Homo sapiens: one gene and its partner. The protein of the gene in region 1 purifies or fractionates together with the protein of each later gene. This does not show direct contact. Each region holds a gene or a part of one and is shown on either strand. Other genes may lie near its edges.

Region 1 (3,809 bases):
CCTCAGCCTCCTGAGTAGTTGGGACTATGGGCACCAACCACTGCACCCGGCATTTCTCTTGCTTTGGGCAGAGGCTCGTAGTTGAGAAGAAAGAATTGTTGAAAGAATGGAGCAGAACTGCTGAAAACGGGGCAGGGCATCTCAGGAGGCTTTTTTTTTTTTTTTTTTTGAGACAGAGTCTCGCTCTGTCACCCAGGCTGGAGTGCAATGGCGCGATCTCGGCTCACTGCAACCTCTGCCTTCTGGGTTCAAGTGATTCTCCTGCCTCAGCCTCCTGAGTAGCTGGGATTACAGGCACCCGCCACCACGCCCAGCTAGTTTTTGTATTTTTAGTGGAGACGAGGTTTCACCAAGTTGGTCAGGCTGGTCTCGAACTCCTGACCTTGTGATCCACCCACCTCAGCCTCCCAAAGTGCTGGGATTACAGGCATGAGTCACCACGCCCGGCCTTGGGAGGATTTTTATAGCAGTTTGACCATTGTTGCACAGCTTCTTAGGAAGCAAGCATCTTACCCTGTCAGATGGCACCCTGTTCATTTCCAGCTACCATGGGCAGCCAATTCCAGAGCAGGATGGAAGGCTGGTGGCCTCTGGCTAAGACTTGCTAACCTGGGGACAGGGTAAGTTGACCAACTCATCAGGGTTTGCCTGGGACTTTGCTGGTTTTAGCACTGAAAGTCACATGTCTCAAGAACCCCCTCAATCCTGGGCAGACCAGGACAGGTGGTCACCTAATACAAGCTGTGGTGCAGTCTGCCTGGAAGCACAGAGGGAACAATGTCCTGGCTTCACAGTGAGACCTGGGCAGGTTACTCCCTCTGCCTATAAAATGGGGGCAGGAATATACAATGCTTTTCTCTCAGACTTGATAGCAGAGCTGAGGCCAGACTCCCTTAGTTCTTTGTTTTGCCCAGAATAGTCCCACATAGGGAAGAATCTGCCACATCCATTGTGGACTTTTTGGTGTATTTTCAGAAGGTGTGTGGTGACTGAAACCCATCTCCAACATCACATCTTTCTGCAGAGTAGTTTGGTGCTGTTTGAAATGGTGGATTTTCCAAGTAACAGAAACAGTGGGCCTGGGTAGATTAGGGAGCTTGGCTTCAGAGGCCAGGGTGCATACTTGGGTGAGGAAGTAAATCTGTAACCCAGGAGCCACCCTGACAGGTGCTCAGCCAGAGGAAGGCTGTCCTGAGAGGCAGAAATGGCCATGTCCCCTCACCCTCCTCTGCTCAGCTGCCTTTGGCTCAGCTGCTGTTAGGGGAGCAGCAGGAGACAGCTGCACCTTGGGGGCTGAATGAAGCCTGGAGGAGGGGGACAGAATGTGAGGCAGTTCCTGAGGGAAGCTCAGGCTGACACTGTGGGTGTCGCTTCCTTGGCACACCCACTGCCGGCAAAGTCATCTAGTTCCAGAGGTCTCCACAGTGGCTGTTTCTGGGAATTTGGGTCGGTAGGTCTGAGACCAAGCACCAGCTTTCTAGAGATGGTGTCTAGCTGGAGAAGCTGACTCCACAGGTGGTGGCGGCTTGGTCATTCCAATGTCAATTTAATCTAAGGCATTACTCTGGTATTCTCTGTCCTCCCATCTCTCTACACCTATTACACATGCACACTCCAAATCCTTTGGAGGGAAGGCATTTGAAATAGTCACAGTTGACAGTTACTGGTTTGATGTTGATAATTTTCTTATTAATGGAGATAATAGCTACCATTCATTTAGTGATCATGTTAAGTGCATTAGTGGGTTTTCATAGTAACCTATGAGTGGATTTATTCTCCCTATTTCACAGATGAAGAAATTGAGGCTCAGAGTTTGTTCATCAAAGCTGGAAGCATTTTAAGGAGCAGTCTGTCCCAGGGAGTCAACTATATGGTATAGAAACCCTTCTTCTATAGCCACGTCTCCCTGGAAAATACTTCTCAATATTTCAGCAGCACCTTTAGATATCAAGAATTGTGAAGGGAAAGGTTTTAGTGAGAGTAACATCTGTGTCTTTGTATGTGAACCACGGGGCTGGGAGGTGGGTGTGAGCTTGTGAGCAGCCAGGATGAAGGGCAAGTGAAGGGTCAATGAAGCGCAGAGCCTCAAGGCTTGTCTGGGCTCTAAAATCAGAATGGAAAACTAATCAATGAGTCCTTTTAGTCAATCCATATTGATCAGCCATCTCCTGGGGGCAGAGGCCTGGACACCCAGAAAAACATCACATCACATGTTTGCTGATTTGAAGTGAGCAGAGGTTAAAAGAAAAGACATAGTCCCTGCCCTTGAGGAGCTTGTGGTGAATTTGGTAGAGAAAAGTATACAGATGGGTCACTTGAAAGGGTGTGGACATCAAAGGACAAAGCAAAGTCCAATGAAATGAGTCAGCAAAGCTTCCAGCATGGAGGCATATGGAGGGTAAAAGCCAGGGAAAGACAGATTTTGGCTCAGTATAGTGAAGACTTTGGTAACTTGGCAGCCCAAAGGTTGAAGGGCAGTTGTTAGAATCAGTGAATTTTTGGCCATCGGAGGTATGTATTCGAGCAGAGGCTGGGAAGGCAGGGGAGCCTTCAGACATCTGGTGAGTAGTCACATTAGGAGGTTTGTAAGTCCTTTCCAACCCTGAGCTCCTATGGCCCTGCCCTGTTCACGGAGGGTGTTGGAAGGACTGTCTGCCCTATCAGAGTGGCTGGCTTCTAGCACCCTGCCAGCTCTGGAACTGCCCCTCTTTGCAGCCATTCAGCAGGTGCCAGGAAACACAGTGTTCCCCAGCCTTGCCACCCACACCTTATGCCTGCCCCCAGGATCATGGGACACATGGCAGCAGCTGGGGGAAGATTTGGGCTTAATGTATTTTGGTTTATTGCCTTTGTCCACCACAGACCTTGTTGGACAGACTTGCTGAGGTTTCCTTGAAAGACACAACCCAGTGATAGCCTTTGGTCCAAGGACTCTCTGACTGTATCGTCAGTGACTCATCTATCTCACTGGGGAAGGGATGTACAATTAGTTCTTGCGCCACTTTAGGGAAACTTAGCTACTGAAAGGCAGAAGTGGCCATTGCTAGTCATGCAGATCTGAAATCCTGATTTCCTGTGGTAATTGCTCTTTATTATCGGCTTTGAACCTGGGCCCTGGGATGGCCCACATGCAGCCTCCTTGCTTAGGTCCTGTGCCATACAACCTGCACCTATGGGTGGGCAGGAAAGACCTAGTGGAGGGGGCCAGGACATATCATGTTGGCCTGACCTAAGCAACGGAGCCCAAGACAGCAGGCTAGAGCTATGGTGGCTGAGCTGAGTTTCCCAGCTAGACACTCCCCTAGACACTTGGCTCAGATACCATGCCCTAGCAGTGCCTGGGGAGTTGTACTGTAGTCAAGGCCATCAATGCCTGGTGGGATGTTGAATTTTGAGGGAGAACTAGCGCTCCAAGAGTTAAGCCATGCTGAAGCAGAGTTGGCCAGGCCACCTGCTGGCTGGAGATGAGGAAGAGCACTCGGTAAATCCCCAGTGACTGACGCAAGGGCTGCTGTATCTTGGCCCTGCAGGTATTAGACCCTGCCTCCATCACACAGAATGTAAGAGCTAGACTTGGGAGAAGTCCAGTCTTCTCTTTCAGTGGGGGAAACAGAGGCCCAGAGAGGGCAAGGGACTTTCAGGCAGTGAGATAATAGCCAAGTTGGCATGGGACTTGTGCCCAGGCCAAGTTCTCTCAGAGCTCTCCGAATGCTGCAGTAGGTTAGCATGCAGGGCTTGTGCAGGTGGGATGGCTCAAAGTCAGTCTTCAGCTTTTATTTCACCCAGCATGCCTCATGTTAGGCCTGTGG
Region 2 (3,246 bases), on another chromosome or scaffold:
GAGATCGCGCCATTGCACTCTAGCCTGGGCAACAAGAGCGAAACTCTGTCTCAACAAAACAGAATTTCCATGCCGAAGGGTGGACTTGGGTGTGAAGGATGGGCCTTGGTTTTCTGCAGGTGTCTACCCCGTGGTGGGCCACGCCCACTGTGCCCCCAGCTCCCCAGCCCATAGTACTGAGCACAGCCGGGAGGCATGGGAGGGGCTGGAGTCCCCTTGGTCCCCCTGGAGGAGGTGGGCCTGGGCAGGTTCCTGGCAGAGGGACCGCACAGGCTCTCAGGGCAAGTGGTCAAGCAGCCCTGGCCGCGGTGGTTCTACTGGTACAGCCTCTGGGCCACAGCCTGATTGTGAGGGTGCTGGGGAGCCAAGGAGGGCTCTGGGAAGTAGGCATCCTGCTTAGACTCGCATCGGGAAGAGCAGGCCGTGGCTTCAGGGATGCAGGACTGGAGATGCTGCTGACTAGGGGTCAGGGTGTCCGTCTCTGAGGGCCTGATGGGGGGCTGGACTGACAGCAAAGTTCACCCACCCTGTGGCAGGGCCCGTGGCTCCCTGTCTCTGATTCTGGAGGTGAGCCAGGCCTCTTACCTGCCGCTGCAAAGGACAAGGCCCAGGGAGGCAGTCAGCTTGGGGCGTGATGGAGTGAAGTTGGAACGTGCCCTGGGGTGGGGGAGGCGTTGCCCAGCCTGGCTGGCAGATTCCTCTCAGCCCGGGCCAAGGGCCGGGCCTGTCTCCTTCACAAGCCGGCGGAAACCGGGGCTGGAAACCCCAGACCCGCCACTTCCCTCAGAGGCGCAGCCGCGGCCGCCGCCGGAAATGGGCCATCAGGAAGGGGTCTGCGGGAGGTGAGGGGCTAGAGGGCAAGGAAGCAGCTGGGTAAGGTCGGTCTGGGGTGAGTCCCCCCGGAGGTGGGGAGGCCTTGGGGGTGGGGCATGGAAGCCCCCAGTTCTGTCCCTGCCCCTGTATGTTGGGTACATCTCAGAGGGCGGCCTCTACCCTGCAGGCCTCCGGCTGGCCTTGGTTCATGGCACCCGACAGCCCCTCCTGCGGCGAGCCAGGGCTCCCCCACCCCCTGGTCATCTTCCCAGATGCCCCTCAGTCCCGTTTCTCCCCAGATCCACACCTGGCCCTCCCCCTCCTGTTCCAGAATGCAGCCCAGCCCCTCTGCCATCCTGTCCTCCTAGCCCGTGGTCTCCCTCCACACACGCCAGTCCAGGCTCCTTCCCTTGGTGCCTGACCCCTCCTGGCTGCCAGCAGCCCCCTTCTGGCCACTGCCCACTGAGGGAGGGGGCTTCCTCTTACCCCTCCCCAGCCTGGGCCACTGGGCCTGGTACTGAGGACCTCGCTGCCACCCCACCCCACTCTGCCATGCTACGGGGGGTGGGGGGGCGGTCAGTGCATGCTGTTCCTAGTCTGAAACTTGTGTCCTGTGGGTGCCTGGTGGGGAACCCTTGCGGGAAGGCCTGGTGGGTTTGTCCCTGCTTCCCAGCCAGCCTGTGTCCCCGGGTATGGGCTGGGGTCTGGCATGGGCCTCTGCAGCTGGCCACAGACTGAGGGGCTCCAAACAGCACTGGGAACAGCCTCAGGGTATCTGGTTGGGGGCTGCAGACAGGGGTGGGGTCTTCTGCTTGGCCTTGACAGGTTGCAGGCAGGTTGTCAGCCGGATCTGCAATCTCATGGGGGCTTGGGGTCTTCCCGGCTCACGAGGTTATGGCAGAATTCAGCTCCTGGTGGCTGGGGACTGGGTCCCACCTCCCTGCTGGCTGTTGGCCCTTCCCAGCATGGCGGTTGCTTCCCCTTCAGGGCCAGCAGGACTGGCCTGAATTTCTCCCTTTCTGGCGTTGAAACACCCTCTGGAGGGCTTCGTGATCGGGCCATGCCCGCCTAGGATGCTCTCCCTTCTGATGAGCTCAAGTCACCGGTTAGGGTCCTTAATCACATCGACAACACCCACCCCACCTGGCGAGTACAACGTGATCAGGGAAGGGATGCCCTGCTGCGGGAGGGGCCACGGGCGTGCACACCAGGTGGGAATCCGGGTGGGAGAGGGCATCCCAGAGTCCTGCCTACTGGAGGGCTGGAGGGAGCAGAGTGGAGAGGGTGGGTTGGAGGGTGGTAGAAGGGCCAGGGGGCCAGCGGGGCCAGCGTGGGTGACTCAGCAGACCCTGTCTCAACCCGTAGGTCTGGAGTGGGACTGACTGGCTCCAGACAGACCATGTTCTACACAGAGGTGACAGATGCCCAGCGTAGCGGTCCAGGTGGGGGCCTGGTGGAGGAGGGTGAGCTCATTGAGGTGGTGCACCTGCCCCTGGAAGGCGCCCAGGCCTTTGCAGACGACCCGGACATCCCCAAGACCCTCGGCGTCATCTTTGGTGTCTCATGGTTCCTCAGCCAGGTGGCCCCCAACCTGGATCTCCAGTGAGACTCCAGGGTTCTAGACAGAGGCCAGTCTTGGCCACTCACCCCACACCCCGCGGACCCCAATAAAGGCTTGCATAGCTCCAGCTTCTGCCTGCTGGTTCTGAGCTCTGTGACCAGGGCCTTGGAGAGGACTGGGGAAGGGGCGGGAAGCAGTGACCCTGACCTGAGATGGCCCTCGGGACACGGCGAGCTCTCCTGTAGGAGGAGTAGCTGGTGGCAGGCCATGCAGGTGGTTGCTGTGGGGCTGAGGACAGGCCTGGGGATGCCATGGGCAGGGCCAGGCTGTGCCTCCTCTTGGAGCTGGGAGGGGTGGGGTCCGGGACTCATGGAGGGTGGCATGGCAGGCCTGGGGGTGGGCCTGCTGGTCACGGGGCTGCAGCATGAGCTGTGCTCACGAGAGTGGTGGCTGAGCCAGTCCTCAGGAGTTAGGATGGGGTGGGCAGCACTGCAGGCTGCACGCTGCAGGGAAAGTATGTTCCCTGCTCCTGGGGCAAGTGAGGGGTCCCCACCCTGACTGGGGCTGGGCTAGAGCCACTCCACAGGAGCCCGGAGCCAAAGCTGCCCTGTGTCGGGGGCCCCAGTAGCTGATCCGTGCACCCCCAGCCTTGGAAGTTTTCCAAGGGACCTTCCTCGGCCTGTGGGGTATGCAGAAATGTCTGCAGGCTTGCTCCAAGAGGAGCAGGTGGCGGCACAGGGTGGGGACACAAGGCCAGTGGTCTTGACATGGGCCAGGTTCCTGGTGCCAGCCCGGTCCTGGTCCCGGGGCACGGCCTCAGCCTGGGCCGCCCAGCACCAGGCTCTACTGGCCCCTGAGCATCTCTGGCCTGT

Evidence for each region.
Region 2: the proteins of SEPTIN4 (region 1) and NUDT14 purify together in Homo sapiens (affinity purification with mass spectrometry; one large-scale study listed by BioGRID and IntAct). This does not show direct contact.

The regions. Positions count from the first base shown.
Region 1 is NC_000017.11:58,534,190-58,537,998, reverse strand, and holds part of SEPTIN4 (septin-4), read left to right. Parts: intron 1-543; coding exon of another isoform or gene 544-620; intron 621-1,790; coding exon of another isoform or gene 1,791-1,794; exon of another isoform or gene 1,795-3,809. UniProt on the Homo sapiens protein: Filament-forming cytoskeletal GTPase. Pro-apoptotic protein involved in LGR5-positive intestinal stem cell and Paneth cell expansion in the intestines, via its interaction with XIAP. May also play a role in the regulation of cell fate in the intestine.
Region 2 is NC_000014.9:105,172,194-105,175,439, reverse strand, and holds the end of NUDT14 (uridine diphosphate glucose pyrophosphatase NUDT14), read left to right. Parts: intron 1-2,178; coding exon 2,179-2,419; 3' UTR 2,420-2,501; downstream 2,502-3,246. UniProt on the Homo sapiens protein: Hydrolyzes UDP-glucose to glucose 1-phosphate and UMP and ADP-ribose to ribose 5-phosphate and AMP. The physiological substrate is probably UDP-glucose. Poor activity on other substrates such as ADP-glucose, CDP-glucose, GDP-glucose and GDP-mannose.